Linked DNA regions of Homo sapiens: region 1 is linked to region 2. The links come from fine-mapping of genetic effects on gene expression. A gene starts in region 2. The other region holds a variant in brackets. All regions are shown on one strand. Distances are from middle to middle.

Evidence for each region. PIP is the estimated chance that this variant, and not a neighbour inherited with it, causes the effect. A credible set is the group of variants that fine-mapping cannot tell apart.
Region 1: its variant is the best candidate, but not a certain one, in a credible set for the expression of CLN8 in whole blood (TOPMed, PIP 0.85).

The regions. Positions count from the first base shown.
Region 1 is chr8:1,738,526-1,748,234 of GRCh38, reverse strand. LOC105377778 (a long non-coding RNA gene) reads left to right here. Exons shown (of 4, transcript XR_007060784.1): 4 at 5,383-5,416. Among named protein-coding and RNA genes, the nearest start is that of CLN8, 20 kb to the left of the region's middle. The variant C/A (reference allele first, on the strand shown) is at 4,915.
Region 2 is chr8:1,758,269-1,767,977 of GRCh38, reverse strand. CLN8 (CLN8 transmembrane ER and ERGIC protein) reads right to left here and starts at 4,189. Exons shown (of 3, transcript NM_018941.4): 1 at 4,093-4,189. CLN8-AS1 (CLN8 antisense RNA 1) reads left to right here and starts at 3,394. Exons shown (of 2, transcript NR_134303.1): 1 at 3,394-3,544; 2 at 5,050-6,015.

The DNA.
Region 1 (9,709 bases), 20 kb after region 2:
ACATCTACAGTCATATCAATATCTATACCCATACCCATATCTCTATATTTCTACATCTATACCCATATCACAGCTGTGTCTATATCTGTTAAGTCATTCTTGCATTGCTATAAAGAAATACCTGAGACTGGGTCATTTACAAAGAAAAGAGGTGGAATTGGCTAACGGTTCTGCAGGCTGCGCAAACATCGTACCAGCATCTGCTCCGCTTCTGGGGAGGCCTCTGGGAGCTTTTGCTCATGGCGGAAGGTGAAGCAGGAGCAGGTGTGTCACATGGACAGAGCTGAAGTCAGAGAGAGAGAGAGTGGGTTGGGGGAGCTGCCACACACTTAAACACCCAGACCTCCTGAGAACTCACTCACCATTGTGAGGACAGCACAAAGCCACGAGGGATCTTCACCCACGAACTAAACCCCTCCCGCCAGACCCCATCTCCAACACTGGAGATTACAACTCAACATGAGACTTGGGTGGGGACAAATATCTAAACTATATTACTATATCTATATCTATATACATCTATGTCCATAGCTACATCTATGTCCACATCTGTATCTGTAATCTGTGTGTTCAGATAGATACACATGTCTTTTTACAAAGAAAATAAAGCCAGGTTGCAGTGGCTCACACTGGTAATCCCAGCACTTTGGGAGGCTGAGGCAGGTGGATCACCTGAGGTCAGGAGTTCGAGTCCAGCCTGGCCAACATGGTGAAACCCTGTCTCTATTAAAAATACAAAAAAAAAAATAGCTGGGCATGGTGGCGGGTGCCTGTACTCCCAGCTACTCAGGAGGCTGAGGCAGGAGAATCGCTTGAACCCAGCAGGCAGAGGCTGCAGTGAGCTGAGATCATGCCACTCCACTCCAGCCTGGGCGACAGAGTGAGACTCCCTCTCAAAAATAAATAAATGAAAAGAAAATAAGCTCAGAGAAATCAGGTGGTGCCACCATCAATAAGCATCAGAACTGGAATGCAAACGTGGGCTTTGGTGCCTTCAAAGTCAGAACTGTGTTCACCCCTCTCGCTTTAGGGTCTGTATCAGTTTGTTAGGGCTGCCATAACAAAGTGCCACAAACAATAGGACGGTCTTCTCTCCCAAGCCAGAAGTCGGAGATCCCGGTGTCCGCAGGGTTGAGCTCCCCTGAAGGCTCCAGGGGAGGGTCTGTCCCAGCTGGGCCTGGATCTGGCCTCCGGTGGCCCCTCGGCTGGGTGGCCCCTGGGCTGAGTGGCTCCTCGGCTCGGTGGTGGAGCTCCAGTCCTCACGTGGTGTCCTTCCTCTGTGTGTGTCTCTCTGTGTCCCAGTTTCCCCTTTTTATAAGAACACTGACTGTATTCAATTAGGATCCTCCCTCATGACCTTATCTGAATTTGATTTAATTTCATTCCCTCTTTGGAAATAGACAAGACCCTATTTCCAAATAAAGTCACATTTCCAGGTATGGGGGGTGGTTAGGTCTCCAACATACCTTTTTTTTTTGAATGGGGTATAATTCAACTCATAACGGTGTCTTTCACCAAAACCCAGTGATCCTACTTAATCCACATCCCATCTCTTAATGCCTAGTCCCATCGACTTGTCACTAGATGATGCTGAGAACAAAGGTTTTGTATCTGGGATAAAAGCTTTTTCATCATCATAGAAATTTGGCAAACTTCAGAAGCACCATTACTGTGTTTCAATTTTGTCAAGCCTTTTAACAGCTGTACCATATCCTTGGACTACTTCTATTTTGTAGATAAACGCACGGATACTTGTTTATGTGTACACGTGGTGCTCACACCGAATGTTAGAAGTATGCAATGTGCTTTCTTACACGTGTGGTCATTTATGGCAAACAGCTCTGGGAGGAAAGCAAGGCAGGAAGCAGCTTGTGCATCTGCAGAGGGCACGATGGTGTCTGCTGGGCTGGGTGACTCACCAGTCACAAGCTGGGGTGGGTGGGGCCAGAGAGCCACAGTGCAGAGCTGCTGGACCTCAGGCCCTCACAGCTGAATCAGGGTTCACTTTTTAGGGCTTATTGTTGGGCACAGTCCAGAGACAGCCAGAAATCCCCACATATTAAAGCAGAAAGCACCTTCTAGCCGAGCCACGTTGGACGTGGGACCCATCACTTGTCTTATTTCCACATCTTATAACTTGGAGGAACACAGTTATTGCAATCTTTGCACTGTCTGCCTTTCCTCCATATGTGCTCTGTAGTGTTATTTTCTTGACATTTCTCTTCCTTTGGGGTGGAAAAAGAGGAAAAAGGTCACGGTGGGTGGAAACAAAATGAGAAGAGAAAGTGCATGGGCAGAATTTCAGTGAGGATGTTGTCACTTCAGAAACCCACACCTCCAACTTGTGGTCTGACGAGGTGATCAAACTCAGGACACAAGACGGCGCTCCTCGCCCCACCGCAGCTAACGTCAGTCACGTTACAGGGCAGGTAGGATGGAAAGCGCGTGGCCTATGCTGCGGTCCAGCTTAGATTCTAGCAGCGCGGCTTTCATATCCTGCTCAGGCAAGCCTTGGTCACTCACTGGGCCTCTGATTCTGTGACAAATCCATTGGGCAGACACCCCGAGAGAGCAAGAGGTGACTGAGTCATGGCCTGGCTGTGAGGGACAGCCCACAGTCTGGAGATAGCAAGCCGCCAATGCTGCAGTCACCCTTATAAAACATTTGGAATTACGGAAGCTGAGCAGAGCAGGTTTTGCTTGTTTACTTTGTTTCTGGTTTGCAGAGAGCATTAGGTTGGAGGAAGTTTTTTTTTCTTGTTCTTACATCACAAAATGTAAACTATCAGAGACTTAAAGCTTAAGCATTTTTGTGCATCCAGACAAACCACGACAAAACAAAACAGCCAGCCACAGCCTACACGTTTGGGCCAGGGTCGTGGTTCTCTCACGGAATGCTGTTCAGAAGCGAAAAGACACCAACATTGACAATTCAGGAGAAGGAGAATTTCAGACACCGTATTCAGTTCTCTTTGTGGCTGAGTCTCTGCAATACGCTGTCTTCCATGTAAGGACTAGAATCAAAGGCTGAGCTGTCTCCATCGCTCCCTGCCCATTGAGAGCCTATGGTCATATGGGGAAACTACCTTTTCATCATGGAAAAGAAGAACTGGTGAGCTTCCTTTGCTGACTCATTAAGCCATTCATCTAGCATTCACCAAGTGCTACATTCATCCAGCGTTCACCAAGTGCTACCGGAGTGCCAGGCTCAGGGCCACATAGAGCTGTTTAGCTGTTCTTGTGACTTTTTTTCCGCTTTTTCTTTTTTTTTTTTTTTTTGAGACGGAGTTTTGCTCTCATCGCCCAGGCTGGAGTGCAATGGTGTGATCTCGGCTCACTGCAACCTCTGCCTCCCGGGGTGAAGCAATTCTTGTACCTCAGCCTCCCGAGTAGCTGGGATTACAGGTGTGTGCCATCATGCCTGGCTGATTTTTGTATTTTTAGTAGAAACGGGGTTTCCTCATGTTGGCCAGGCTGTCTCAAACTCCTGACCTCAGGTGATCCACCAGCCTCGGCCTCCAAAAGTGCTGGGATTACAGGTGTGAGCCACCACGCCCGGCCAATTTTTTTTTTCTCCTAACATCTCAGGGGAACGTTTTTATCCTCGTGCAGTTTGCCCATCACGAGCCGGGTCCCGTGTTGATGCCAAGGTCATAGCAAGTGTCATGCGGCACGCCATTGGGTACTCGAAGTGTTTAGGTGCCTGCCCTCCCCTCGGATCCGGCCCCATCCAGGGGCCCTGCTCCCATTTCCTGCCCTGCACCTTCCTCCAGGAAGTCCCCCTCCCGGCCACGCCAGCCCGTTTCCAGACCTCACCCTTGACCTTCACCCCTTATTTGTGCACGTGCTGCCATCCTTCGCGGTGTCACGTCTCACCGTCACATTCCCAGCCGGGATAGTTCCTGCATATCACGGAAGACCTGCCTAGGGAGCTGCCTTCCCGAGTTTTCATCTTCTCTCGTCCTCAAGGAGCCTCCCGCCAGGCACGCGGCTCCTTCCGCTGGCTCTCCCCTCTCTCTTCTGTCACTAGAAGGGCCTTGACCCTATCAGCGTCGAGCCTTTGTCGTGATGACGCATTTGTCTTCTCTCTGAGTGGCTCTGTACCGCGTTCTCTTAGCTAATCTGTGTTTCTCAAAGTTCCCTTCCCTGAATGGTTCCAACGTCCTGTTGGAGGAAAGAGAGATTTGCAGAAATTTGGAAGGTGGAAATGAAGGAGCAGCTATTTTCTACAGGACGATCATCTGTGTTTATTCACACCGTGAGGCTCAAAGAGGTTGCTTCCCCCCTACCAGCGGAAAAGGGATGCTGCACGAAGGAATTTTAGGCAGTGACACTGTAATGGTGGGTACGTGTCATTCTACATGTGCCCAAACCAGAGAACGGCCAACGCCGTGACTGGTCCGTGTGTTACAGTTGATGAACCTGCATTGGAGTATCGGAGTCGCCAGTGCGGGCACAGACATCTGCGGAAACATCAAGCCCCGCTCATCCCCTCCTAGTGGGAAGCCCCCCCTACATTCATCAACGCCACAGGTTTCTTTATGGGAGAGTTTTAAAGGTTGTAGTTTTAGGCTGCCTATTTGTTCAGAGCAGAGAAAGAGAATAAGCTCTGAAAATGGCAAAGGCATAGCAGGAGGAGATTGGAACCATGGTGGAGATCAGCCCCCAGGCCAGGACTGCACAAGCCGTCCCTCAGTGGGAGGGACCTTCCTGCTCGTGGTGGTCACTTGCCTCATAGTGAGCACTCATTCCCCCGCCGGGGGCGGCTGGCACCCATCATTGCAGATCTGTGGGTGCTCCTATCCCTCCAGAGGACACTAAAGAGCAGGGGAGATGCACTTTCCTTCCAGTCCAAACCAGCCACCTGCCCGAAGGAAGAAGGAGAACCAGGGCTGCATCCAAGGAAAACACTTT[C/A]ATTTCTCAAAGGAAAACATTAGGAACCTGAGGGAAGCTATTGCCAGGTGTGTAACTGACCCAGGATCTTCATCTAGAGCAGGGCTGGCAAAACAAGGCCCTCAGGCCAAATCAGGTCCACCATCCATTTATTTTGTATTCTCTGTAAGCTAACCATGAATTTTATTTTTTTTTAATGGTTCAAAAATGTAGAAGGAGAATGATGTTTTGTGACATGTAAAAATGATATGCTGTTCACGTTTTCAAGTCCATCAAAATAAGATAAACTGAACAGCACCAGGCTCATGGGTTTAGTATTGTCTGCAGCTGTTTTACGTGACAGCAGGAGAAAAGGTCCCACAGAGACCACATGGCTCACAAAGCCTAAAAGGTTAACTTTCTGGCTCATTACTGGAAAAGTTTGCTGATCCCTGACTATTTTTATTTTATTTTATTTTATTTTATTTTATTTTATTATTTTTGAGACAGGATCTCACTCTGTCACCCAGGCTGGAGTGCACTGGTGCAACCTCGGCTCACTGCAGCCCTGACGTCCCAGGCTCAAGCGATCCTCCTATCTCAGCCTCCCAAGTACCTGGGACTGGGACAGCAGGAGTGCAACACCCACACCAACACCAGACCACAGCCTTGACCCCTGAGTTTAGAGCATGCAAGAAATTCCTACAAATCAATTAGAAAAAACAAGCGATTTAAATAGAGAAATGGGCAAAAGACCTGAACAAGCACTGTACCAAAGAAAAGATCAAAATGGCTACTCAACGGATGCTCCCCTGTGTTATTCATCAGTGGCTGCTGCTTACAACCACAGTGAGATATCACTACATAGCCGCCAGGACAGCAAAGTCAGGAAAGAGGAGCAGGAATCAGTGTGGATACAGAGAAACTGAACTCAGACACTGTTGGTGGGAACTGAACTCACACACTGCTGAGGAGAACTGAACTCACTCACACACCATGGGGGGACTGAACTCACTCACACAGCACTGAGGGGACTGAACTCACACACCACGGCGGGGCCTGAACTCACTCACACACTACTGTGTGGAAACTGAACTCACTTGCGCACCCCTGGGGGGAAGTAACATTTTTGCATTGACCCTGGACCAATAACCACTGAAACTGAACTGAAGCTTCCATGGCGACACTGTGATTCCCCACGACCAGCAGAAATGCAAACATATTGCACACAAGGTCATGCACAAGAATGTTGACAGGATCACTGTTTGTGTGTTTATCTGAACCTTCACCTGCTCATGACAGATAAAGGTTATCATGTGAACGTGGGGAAGACATCGCCAAACACCCAGGGGAGGTTTCCCTGGGAGCAGACACCTCCTCCCCTCGCCGTCCTCTTTTACCTCCCGTTGCCGTCCTCTTTGAAATGCCCTGCAGCACGGTCAAGGGACTCTGCTGCTCTGCCAGTCCACTGTGTAGGTCTTCCTGCTTCTCCACTTTATTTCCACCAAATTATAAACTCTTGGAAACAAAGATTCTGCCATCACGCATTTCTTTATCACTCACAGCATCTGGATGTCCTCCACAACAGCAAGTGGCACCTGTCATATTTTGTTTTGTGTTTTTTGTTGTTGTTGTTTTGTTTTTTTTTGAGACGGAGTCTCGCTTTCTTGCCCAGGCTGGAGTGCAGTGGTGTGATCTCTGCTCATTGCAAGCTCCGCCTCTCGGGTTCAAGCGATTCTCCTGCCTCAGCCTCCCTAGTAGCTGGGACTACAGCTGCGTGCCACCACGCCTGGCTAATTTTTTGAATTTTTAGTAGAGACGGGGTTTCACAGTGTTAGACAGGATGGTCTTGATCTCCTGACCTCGTGATCCACCCGCCTCGGCCTCCCGAAAGTGCTGGGATTACAGGCATGAGCCAACGCGCCTGGCCACCTGTCACGTTTTACAGCTAAGGAAGCTGAGGTCACATGTCCAAGGAGTCAAGCATGGGACGTCTCTGTCCTTACCCAACGTGGGTCTCACCACCACTCCTTATTGACTCCACTCTGATCAGACTGTGCCTCTGATAACTCCCAGGACAGGCTCAGCCTTTTCAAGCTTCTGGGCCTTCACATTTGCTTTTGCCTCTCTACCTGGGTCTTTATTTCTTCTATTGTCCAAGGACCAAGTCCTCCTCATCCTTCAGGTCTCAACTCTGGCTGGGCTCCGAGGAGGAGCTACCACCTGGGACGCCACTACCTGTCGGGCCTGCCTCCCTCTCTTACTCGCTCATGTCCTTGCATTTCACTCATTGAATGATCTTAAACATTCATGATAGAATGATCTATCATGTCATAAAAATGACATGATAATTATTTTTATCTCTTTGTGGACTGTTTATTTTCTGTCCTGCCCTTCCCACCTCACAAGAATGGGAAGCCCCATGGTGGGCTGGGACATCATCTGTCTTATTCACACGTGATGTTAAAAGAGATTGTTTTCTTCCTAACGGTGATGAAGTTACACTGCACAGAGGATCTTCAGGGCAGTGAAGCTACTCTGCATGGCACTGTCATGGTGGATAAGAGTCAGTGTACATCTGTGCAGACCCAGAGGATGAACAACACCTAGAGCGAGCCCTCGTGTAAACCACGGACTCCAGGCAATGAAGACGTGTCCATGTGGGTTCACCAATGGTAACAAATGCACCACACTTGCTGGTGGGGGGTGGCTATGCGTGCAGGGGAGAGGGGACAGGCAGCGAATGGCAGGTGTCTGTACCTTCTGTGCATTTTACTGTGAGCCAAAAACTGCTCTAAAAAAATTGTCTACTTTTAAGTTCTGATGGGTTCTCTGGCTTCAGGGAGTTGCCATTTTGGATCCTGAAGAATAAAGAGATAGGCTCATTTGCATGAGGTAGGCAGAGTCAAGTTGGAGGTTGAACTACGTGCTGGGACTGAGGCCATCAGACTCTGGAGGGAGGAGGGGAGCATAGCTGCTGTCTTGCTGACAGCTTCATGGGGAAGCTGGGGTCTGAGTTAGGATGAGTGTCTTAGTCCATTTGTTTTGCTATCAAGGACTACCTGAAGCTGAGTAATTTATAAAGAAAAGAGGTGTGTTTGGCTCACCTCTCTGCAGCCTTCACAGGGAGCATGGTGCCAGCATCTGCGACTGGTGAGGCCTCCGAAATATTAGAAATTGGCCGGGCGCAGTGGCTCATGCCTGTAATCCTAGCACTTTGGGAGGTTGAGGGGGGCGGATCACCTGAGGTCAGGAGATCGAGACCAGCCTTCCCAACATTGGTGAAACCCCGCCTCTATTAAAAATACAAAAATTAGCTGGGCGTAATGGCAGGCACATGTAATCCCAGCTACTCGGGAGGCTGAGGCAGGAGAATCGCTTGAACCCAGAAGGCAGAGGTTGCAGTGATCCAAGATCACACCACTGCACTCCAGCTTGGGTGACAGAACTAGACTCCGTCTCAAAAAAAAAAAAAAAATGTGAGAAATCATTCTGCTCGTGGCGTCATGGCGGAATGGGAAGCGGAGCAGGCATCACATGCCAAGAGGAAAAAAGCCATAAAGAGGGACAGAGAGAGAGGAAAGGAGCTGCCAGGCTCTTTTTAACAATCAGATCTCGCGAGAGCTAATGAAATGAGACAAATAGAGTGAGGATGGCACCAAGACATTTATGTAGGGGCCACACCAGTGACCAGACACCTCCCACCACAACAATGACCAGACACCTCCCACCACACCAGTGACCACACACCTCCCACCACACCAGTGACCACACACCTCCCACCACACCGGTGACCAGACACCTCCCACCACACCGGTGACCAGACACCTCCTACCACAATGACCAGACACCTCCCACCACACCAGTGACCCAGACACCTCCCATCACACCAGTGACCCAGACGCCTCCCACCACACCAGTGACCAGACACCTCCCACTAGGCCGGCACCAACACTGGCGATCCAATGTCAGCCTGAGGTTTTGGGGGTGTCAAACATCCAAACGATATCACTGGGGTATGTCTGGGGAGGCAGGATGATGGCAGAAGGCCTCGAGACAGGAAGACCTTGCCTTGGGTCCGAAGCCTGTGCACAACCATCAGGAAACTCATCTGTTTCTGCTGGAGTTTAACTTGACTTTGATTGGTTATTAAAAACCATCCTGTAATCCCAGCAGTTTGGGAGGCTGAGGTGGGCAGATCACAAGGTCAGGAGTTCGAGACCAGCCTGGCCAACATGGTGAAACCCGGTCTCTACTAAAAATAGAAAAAATAGCTGGGTGTGGTGGCGGGTGCCTGTAATCCCAGCTACTCGGGAGGCTGAGGCAGGAGAATTGCTTGAACTCAGGAGGTGGATGTTGCAGTGAGCTGAGATTGCACCACTGCACTCCAGCCTGGGTGACAGAGCAAGACTCCGTCTCAGAAAAAAAAAAAAAATCATTGGGCCGGGCATGGTGGCTCACTCCTGTAATCCCATCACTCTGGGAGGCCGAGGCAGGTGGATCACCTAAGGTCAGGAGTTCAAGACTGGCATGGCCAACACAGTGAAAACCTATCTCTACTAAAAATACAAAAATTAGCTGGGCATGGTGGTGGGCGCCTATAGTCCCAGCTCCTCAAGAGGCCGAGGTGGGAGAATCACTTGAACCCCAGAGGCAGAGGTTGCAGTGAGCCAACATCGCGCCACTGCACTCCAGCCCGGGTGACAGATTGAGACTCTGTCTCAAAAATAAATAAATAAATAAAATAAATAAATAAATAAAAATAATCATTGGTTCTCACCTCCTTTATGATTCTTTTGCCCCATTCTCTCTTCTCTTCTGGGGCTGTGTGTGCACA
Region 2 (9,709 bases):
GAGCAAAACTCCATCTCAAAAAAAAAAAGAAAGAAAGAAAACAAGTTTCTTTCCTAACCACCCTGGACCCCAGAATCTGACTACAGGAAAAAGAAATACACAGAGCAGGCCGAGTGCAGTGGCGCACGCCTGTAATCCCAGCACTTTGGGATGCCAAGGCAGGTGCATCACAAGGTCAGAAGTTCGAGACCAGCCTGGCCAACATGGTCAAACCTCGACTCTATTAGAGATACAAAAAATTAGCTGGGCGTGGTGGTACATGCCTGTGATCCCAGCTACTTGGGAGGCTGAGGCAGGAGAATCGCTTGAACCCGGGAGGTGGAGGTGGCAGTGAGCTGAGATTGCGCCACTGCACTCCAGCCTGGGTGACAAGATGAGACCCCGTCTCAAAAAAAAAAAAAAAAAAAAAAAAGAAAGAAACATACAGAGCAGCGGGAAATGAAGCACCTACTACAAGCCAGATGTTCAACTAGTTTGTGTGATCTTCACCATAAGAGCAAATAGCTACCAGGTCTTCAAGCTTTCTAGATATCTTTTTGGAGAGATTACCATATCTACAGAAAAGTGGCAGATAGGTGAAAGACATGGAAACAGAAACAGGTAAGCCACAGCTGAGTGGGCAAACCCTCCTGGCAGTCAGAGAACAGGTGCCAATTAGGGATGCAGAAACAGCAGATTATAAAGACCAGAATGCTTACTTCCCCTTCCAGTCCTGTAGTGAATCCCCCATTCTGATTCTTTGCTCAAACCTCCTGACTTTCTGGGTAAGCTGGTGCTGTTCTAGTCTAACTCGTTACTGTGGGTCTCTGAGTTTAGTTAATGCCAACCAGCATCCTCCAGCCAGGAGTTCACAAAGGAGGTGAACTCCTCAGCTCTCTCAGCCATGAGGGTAGAAGGCCAGTCCCAGAGGCAGGATCCAGCCCAAGCGCCCAGTCTTCCTGGAGTCCTGCAGAGCTCTGCTGTCCTTTCGTGGCATCAGCGTTGTACTGAGAACAGCTGTGGTTCACCCCAAGTCACAAGGTGGGCACCCACAGAAGTGTGGCTAGGCCTTGTTCTGTCAGGCAGCACAGAAGGGGTATGGGAAGAGCTCAGCTTCTCCTTTTGCTTCTATTTCTGCTCCTTGACCCAACCACACCCTCTCACTCTTGATACGCAAAATGGGACACAGGGGTTCCCACTGTTCCCTTGCTGTGCACCATAAGGCTCAGGCCACATGAAGGAGTCCTTAAGTGTAATGCACAGCTGGAAGTCACTGTTCCTTCCATGGGTAAAACTGGAGGCCGAATCGGCCGGGCAGGGTGGCTCACACCTGTAATCCCAGCACTTTGGGAGCCCAAGGTGGGAGGATCACGAGGTCAGGAGATCGAGACCATCCTGGCTAACATGGTGAAACCTTGTCTCTACTAAAATACAAAAAAAAAATAGCCAGGCGTGATGGCGAGCGCCTGTAGTCCCAGCTACTCGGGAGGCTGAGGCAGGAGAATGGCGGGAACCTGGAAGGCGGAACGTGCAGTGAGCTGAGATAGCGCCACTGCACTCCAGCCTGGGTGACAGAGTGAGGCTCCGTCTCAAAAAAAAAAAAAAAAACAAAAAACTGGAGGCCGAACCTAATGGACTCATCTGGTTCTTTCATTCTGGAAGGCTTCCAAGCCCTTCCACACCAGCCCCTTTCCTCTCTGCAGTAGAGGAAGTGGAGCCGGAGAATAAACAACTCCTGGAAGGCCACCATCTCTTGACGCTGCAGATCTTCATTTTCTTTGGAGAAAATGTATACAAAAAGCTTGTCTTATAAGATTCTGTGGTTTCAGCTCTTCTATTGCACTGGGCCATGAAGTTTTTTAAAAATCTGAATGCAAACACATCAGTAAGAGTGTTAGCTCTGTTGCTGCAGTGTGACCAGGAACCAGGCTCAGTGGCCACTGGAACCCTTCGACTCTGTCATGCATCTATGCGCTCCTCCGGTTTATGGGGGCTAAACTGCTATGGATACCAGCATTTTTGTTTTTCATTGAGATAATTTATCCAAACTTGGAAGTGACGTCAAAAGGGAAAAAAAAGGTTGCATGCTTTTTTCCCTGCTAACGCAAGTTCAGTGTTTTACAACCCCAACAATCACTTGACTTTCTAGGAGAAATAACTAAACTATTTACCACTGATTGTGGGTCACGCATTTTACAATCTGCAAAGCTAATTCTCCTTTCCATCAAGAAGAAAAGACAATCCCAAAGGCTGTGGTTTCAATGCACACAGGATATTCACCAATCTTATTATCTAATCTGGCAATCTTCTCTCAGCATTCCTGTTACCCACTCACTAAGAAAATCCTAGTTTTGTGTATTCTCTTTTGAACTGACATTCCTATCCTGCTGTATACTGCATTAATGACTGAAATATAACCTGACAAGAGCTATTTACATGAGAATTATACTTCTAACATTTTGAAAATTATACATTGATGGGTTGTAAAAATGTTTTCCAAAATCAACAGAAATACATGTTTAATACACAAAATTCAGAAAATATAAACAAGCATAAAAATACAAAAATAAAAATTTACAATCCTCTTACACAGCTCCAAGCACCATCACTATTTTTTGGTGCCTGCTGGGTCAATTGTTTTTCTAGATATAAACTCTTCTTTTTACATAAAAGGGGATAACAGTATACAAGCTGCTCCCCGGCCTGCTTCTCTTCTCTCAGCAACAGCTAATCCTCCTCTGCAACACGGTTGCAGGGACTCCACCATTTACCTACCCGGTGTCCTACCAGGCTTTTGCCCAGTTCCTCGTTATCAGAAGACATTGTGTATTGAACATCTCTGAGGCCACCTAGAGAACCTGTGCTCTTTGTATGGAAACTGGATGCTCAGGAAGAACTTCCTTAACAACCACAGCCTCCATGACGGCCAATCTGAAAGTGAGGCACAGAAGTGTTCAAGCTCAGTGGGGAGCTGTGGCCATCTCATATTCCCTCAATCACTCACACTTCCTGCACCATTGCTCTTTCCTCTCACAACCTTCCTGAAAAGTTGTATGTAAATAAAAATCAAAATACGGGAGTGAGGTAAGCAGAAGCTGGATAGTTACAGATTTCACACAGAGGGTAAACTGAAACAGGAGTCAGAAGCAGCCGCCTCGCGCCAGTCTTTCAGAGAAGAGTCACTTACAGCAGAATCTACACAGGCTGGGGAGCCCCTGGCTCCCCTCCCTACTGTCCACACCCAACCCCAACCTAGAGCAGCTGGCTATAGGGCCCAGAGCCCAGGCGGGTCCCACCTCCTGCTGACCTGACCCAGCGCCCGCTCTCTCCCCCGCACACTTTGGTGACCTTACCCAGCGTCCCTCCCCGCTCCTACAGGTTCTGACTGACCCAGCGTCCCTCCGCCTCCCACACCATGTTGAGCTGCACCTTGTCCCCTTCCGCCCCAGCTAACTCGGTGACCAGTGGAGGCCACACCCACGTGACACCTGCTGTCCTTGACAGCAGCTCCGACGGCACCTCTGTGGCTCTGCAGGAGCCGCCTCCCCGCCTCGTGGGCACACAGGTGAGCTGACCGTACTTGCCCAGCCGGTCTGAGGGAAGCGAGGTCAGGGGCGACGGCGCCGCCTCCGCCTCCGCCTGTCCCCTCCCTCCGTCCGGCATCCGCGCCGCTCAAGGACTCCAAAGTCAGCGTCGCGGTGAGGAGCCCCCCACGCCCAACCCGCGCAGGCAGGACCCCGGGCTGCGGGGCTCGAAAGTCCCCCACAAGCTGCTGTCCGGGAACCGCACGGCCCGGGGTGCCGCACGCCCACCGGAAGGCAGGGCTGGGACCGCGGACGCCAGGAGCCACCCCGGCCCCTCACCCGGGCTCCCCCTCACGTGGGCTCCCGCGCGCCCATCTGGGTTCCCCCTCAGCTGAGTTCCCGGCCCCTCACCTGGGATCCCCGGTCCCCTCACCCGGGCTTCCCAGCCCCCTCGCCTGGGCTCCACGCGCGCTCACCTGGGCTGCCCCTCACCTGGGTTCCCGGCCCCTAACCCGGGCACCCCGCGCGCTCACCTGGGCTGCCCCTCACCTGGGTTCCCGGCCCTCACCCGGGCTCCCTGAGCGCTCACCTGGGCTGCCACTCAGCCGGGCTCCCTGCGCTTGGCGCCGCCCCGCCCCTGCAGGACTCCCGGCAGTCACTGACCTCATTGCCGCCCAGTCACGACTGGCCGGCCTCAAACACCGCCCGCGCACGCGCGTTCGCACGCGCGTGCGCACGCGTTCTGCCCCCCTGGGGGCGTCGCTACGAGAGGCCCCGCCTAGGCGCTACGACGGCGGCGGGCGCGGGAGGGGCGGGGCGGCGGGCGCGGGAGGGGCGCGGCGGGGGGCGGGGCGCGGCGCGGGGGGCGGGGCGCGGCGGGGGGCGGGGCGCGGCGGGGGGCGGGGCGCGGCGGGGGGCGGGGCGCGGCGGGGGGCGGGGCGCGGCGGGGGGCGGGGCGCGGCGGGGGGCGGGGCGCGGCGGGGGGCGGGGCGCGGCGGGGGGCGGGGCGCGGCGGGGGGCGGGGCGCGGCGGGGGGCGGGGCGCGGCGGGGGGCGGGGCGCGGCGGGGGGCGGGGCGCGGCGCGGCGGGCGCTGTGGGGCGGCGGGGTGGACGCGCTGAACCACGGCCGGCGGGAGGGGCGGGGCCGGGCTGAACCATGGCGGGCGGCGGCATGGGGGCGGTGGGGCTCCGCGGGCAGCCTGGTTGCGCTGCACCCGGACGGGGCCGAGGGGACCTGAAAGCTGCGGCAGAGCCTGACCGCGCCGTTCTCCAGAAGAGCCCCGGCCGCGGCTGAGTCGCGCTCCGGGTGTGGACGGAGCCGGAGCCTCCCCGGGGCTCGGTGAGGACACAGGGCCCAAGCCCCGGACCTTCAAGTCTTGACCGAGCGCATCCCCGGCCCTTCTGCGCCCACACCTGAGTTTTTGTCTGTAGGAGTTTCCGCAGTTTGCTAAGGTTGTTATTCGAGTTACTTATGTTTCTTCTCTCTAAGGTTGTTATTCGAGTTACTTATGTTTCTTCTGTCTAATGTGTTTTGTTCCCTCTTTAGAATCGACATCTAGAGGAGTACTCACCACTTAATTGATGATCAATACACGTTCCTTGAAAGAACCGATAGCATGCGATCGATACAGAGCATCTGCACTGGGATTGTCCGCCCCGCCTGTCAGGGAGGCCTCGGGGGCTAATGGAGCTGAGGGTATAGTCGGCCTTGGACCCTCGCTTTTTTCCTTTCCTGTACTATGAAGATAACTGCCTTATCTCCCCCTCAGGACTGTTTTGGGGATTAAATAGGACGTTTAAATTACCAACGCTCTTTGAAATAAACATTTCAAAATTATTATAACCCTTTAGTACATGTGGGAAAACGTTGACATTCATGTTCAAGTTTATTTTTCTGCTGGCTCATTTAGGTTTGTTGAAGCCTTGAGTCCCTAGGATTGTCTAAGAACATGGGTAAATGTGTGTGGAGGCCTCCCTGGAGGCCAGAGAACTGCCAGCAGCCTTCATGATGTTAGGGGAACAGGAACCTAGGAGAGCCAGGGTGACATCGTTTTAAAATCAACAACCCATCTTGGCGGGCGCGGTGGCTCAAGCCTGTAATCCCAGCAGTTTGGGAGAAAAAAATTAGCCGGGTGTGGTGGTGGGCACCTGTAATCTCAGCTACTCAGGAGGCTGAAGCAGAATTGCTTGAACCCAGGAGGCAGAGGTTGCAGTGAGCTGAGATCACGCCATGGCACTCTAGCCTGGGCAACAAGAATGAAACTCTGTCTCAAAAAAATAAAAATAAAATAAAATAAACTCCATCTTAAAACCAGTGAAACCACCATTGCAAAATTATAACTGAGACAGTGAGAGATCTGACCTAACCAACTCCATCCTACTTTTAACCTCCAAACTGTCCTTGTTCATTCCTGGGTGTAGGCCAAACTAACTTTGGAAGAAACTTAGTTTATGGTTTCCCGAAACAAATCCTTTTCTTGTCTGGAGACTAGACTGCCTTTGTAGGACTAACAAATTAGCCACAAGATTAGAAATTATGGTTTAGAATTCATGCAGCTGGAGATTACAAGATTCTGACCCTCCCTAAATTGCTCCTGGGGATAACATCACTATTGAAAAACCTAACAACAGTGCTTGAGATATTTTGCAGACCTTGCACTTGCTGAATTAGCTGGGACCATCCAGATGGATAAACTGGCTCATCTGATCTTGTGGCCCGCACTCAGCAACCGGCTCAGGCCAAGAGGACAGCTTTGATCCATACGATTTCATCTCTGATCTGACCCCTCAGTGCTCCCAGCTTACTGGCCCCCTACCTACCAAATTATCCTTAAAAACTCTGAACTCCAGGGCTGGGCACGGTGGCTCACACCTGTAATCCCAGGACTCTGGGAGGCCGAGGCAGGCGGATCACTTGAGGTCAGAAGTTCAAGACCAGCCTGGCCAACATGGCAAAACCCCGTCTCTACTAAAAATACAAAAATTAGCCAGGCGTGGTGGTGCACGCCTGTAATGCCAACTACTTGGGAGCCTGAGGCAGGAGAATTGCTTGAACCCTGAAGGCGGAGGTTGCAGTGTGCTGAAATCGCACCACTGCACTCCAGCCTGGGCAACAGAGCAAGACTCCATCTCAAAAACAACAGCAAAAACTCTGAACTCCGAATTCTTGGGGAAATTGATTTGAGTAATAATAAAACTCTGGTCTCCCGCACAGCCAGCTCTGTGTGGATTATTCTTTCTCTATGCAGTTCACCTGTTTGGATAAATCAGCTCTGTGTAGGCAACATGAACCTGATTGGCAGTTACAGTAGCCTGTAATCCCAGCTACGTGGGAGGCTGAGGCAGGAGAATTGCCTGAACCTGGGAGGCGGAGGTTGCAGTGAGCCGAGATCATGCCACTGCACTCCAGCCTGGGCAACAGAGCAAGACTCCATCTCAAAAAAAAAAAAAAAAAAAAAAAAAGATGGCTATAGTCATGCTTAGATGTAGTTACGCACTGAAATGCCAAGGATAACGTTATTTACATCCACCAAGTACTAGATCTTGTCACACTGCCAGCCCACCTGCACTTACACGTAGCTTGGCTTTTACATTGATACAAGATGCCTTTGAAACAAAGATGGCACATTCTTCTTCCTGCTTTCCGCGGGCTCCCCACTCTGTATCAGAGCAGCTGTCTCTCACTGCACTCTGCGACTGCCTTGAGTTCCTCCCTGCGCAAGATCCGAGAACTCTCTCTTAGGGTCTGGACTGGACCCCTTTCTCCATCAGCACTGGGTTCCTTAGATTCCTACTAACAGCATGCTGAGGCCTGTCTTAACAAAGAATGAAGTGAGGCTTAGAAAGATGGAACCATAACTTGCTCAGTCACGTGGCTAGTAAGCTCTTCAGCTTGAATTTAAACATTCCAGGACTGTGTCTTTCCACTCGGCCATCTTTAAAGCAGAGTGATAAAATAGTTTTGTTTTCTAAAAAACCATCACAGGCATAACTGATCACAGGTATAACCAGTATCCATGCGGGGTGTGGAACACTGAATGAAACCCGGGCGGATTCCCAGCTTGCTCCGTCTCAGCTTGGGCACTGCTGTTTACAGCCTGTGTACTCCCCTCCCGCCCTGCCACCCACAAGTGTCTCACCTCCTTCCTCGACAGATCGAATGACACAACAAACATTTATCTTGGGTGCACAGCGTGTCAGGCGTCAGGCTAAGCACTTTGATAAACTGGTTCTTTCAAACATCACAGGTGTCTGACGCAGGCACCATTATCCACGTCATAGAAAAAAAACAGTGTTCAGTGAGCCTGAGGTTAGCAATGTGTGCACCTCCACACACTGCTAAATGACAAAGCTGAATTTTGAAGTACGATGCCATGAGGTGTCTGGAGTAGACAACCAAAATGACTTAATTGAGGTGTCAGGGGACTGTCTTACTTTCTGGTCACACAAGCAATATACGCTCATTGTGAGGTTTGGTTGTTCCATTACAAAAAAGACTGTTTTAAAAGCCATTAGCGGAGGGATGGGAGGAGTTCTCTTCTGCCTGTTTCTTCCTCCTAAACAGCAAAATGACGGTGTCCTCAAAGGGATGTATAATGAGCGAGAGGCGAAAAAGAACGTCTGTGATTTTAAATCCAGTGTCCTTCACCAGTGAGCAATAGTAGTTCTGTGAGTGGGAGAGCAGGACCGCGGTGCTTGCAAACAACACTTTAAAACACTGGAACCCAAGTTCAGGATCTGCTGACAGCACATCTGCAGGAAGCATGAGGGTCTCTGGACTCCCGCAGATCAGCTGCTCAGCTTCTCAGCCTCAATGTGGCAAAGACTCTACCTGACCTAACTCCAGGCAGGGTCCTCGAAGCCCTCAAGGCTCTGACCTGGACCCCTGTCCCCTTTCGTCCAAAAGAATCCTGCTGGGTCAATGCAGTGACAGTTCCCCGCCCCTGATATCATACTCCTCATCCCTCACCCTCGGTATCTTATCACCTGGCCTGCCTGTGGCACGAATCCTACCAAGTGGTTCTAGCAAGAACCCCCCTGGCCTGATGTAGCCTCTTCATAGTTTTCCGTCCGTTCTCACCCTCTCCGTGGCTGTACATTCCCGTTTTTCTTCTTACACTCAGAGTTGAGCCTAGTCCCACTGCAGTGGCCCCTGCACCTATCGCGATTCCTTTGAGACTGTAAAACAAAAATAAAATTCTAGTCCCCCGCCAACCCCGTTAGCCACGAGCTTTCCAAAGTAAACCTTAGAGACTAGTTCAGACCGTGATGGGAAGTGGGGGTGGGACAGGCTCCTTATACCCGCCTTCCGTTGAAATCCAGGCACAGCTGACCTGCATTAACGTCAAAGCAGAGATCTTAAGGTTGACAAAACAGACTCTGTAGCAATAAGATACTACATTCCAACCTGACTCTAGTATAGCATCACATGATAGAGAGCAGGCCCTGGAAGAAATCAAGCATTTTACCCCAGAATATATTTCTTTGACATATTTTGAAGGGGCCCCACACGGCTGTCTCTTGAGGGGAAAATCCACATCCTGCCAGAATCCCCTTCCCTTTCCAGGTCTTTTCCCTGATCTAGGAGAGATTTAACTAAGAGTCTGGCACCTCTTTTAGGTCCAATAAGAGCTCTGAAGATAAAAAACCTTGGTCTCCACAACCTTTATCGTAACCCAGACAATCCTTTCTATTCATTCCAGGTCTCTACAATAATAACTTAACTCTTTCAATTAATTGCCCATCAGAAAATCGTTGAATCCATCTGTGACCTGGACACCTTCCACCTGCATCCATGGAGTTGTGTCACCTTTCTGGACCAAACCACTGGACACCTTACATGTATCGATTGGCAACATGTACACCTCCACACACTGCTAAATGACAAAGCCGAATTTTGAAATACGATACTGTGAGGTGTTTGGAGAAGAGAACTGAAATGACGTCATGGAGGTGGCAGGGGATCGTCTTGCCCTTTTCTTATTTTCTGCCTGTAACTTCTGTCCCCCTAAAATGCATAAAATCCAGCTAGAACCCAACCACCTTATGCAGCAGTTCTTAGGACCTCATGGGGCTGTGTCATCAATCAAAGTCCTCATATTTGGCTCAGAATAAATCTCATCAACTAATTTACAAATTTGACTCTTTGTGTTGACAAGTCTGTCTTACCGTTCTTTAATAAGGGCCGTGTATAATGTTTTCTTTAG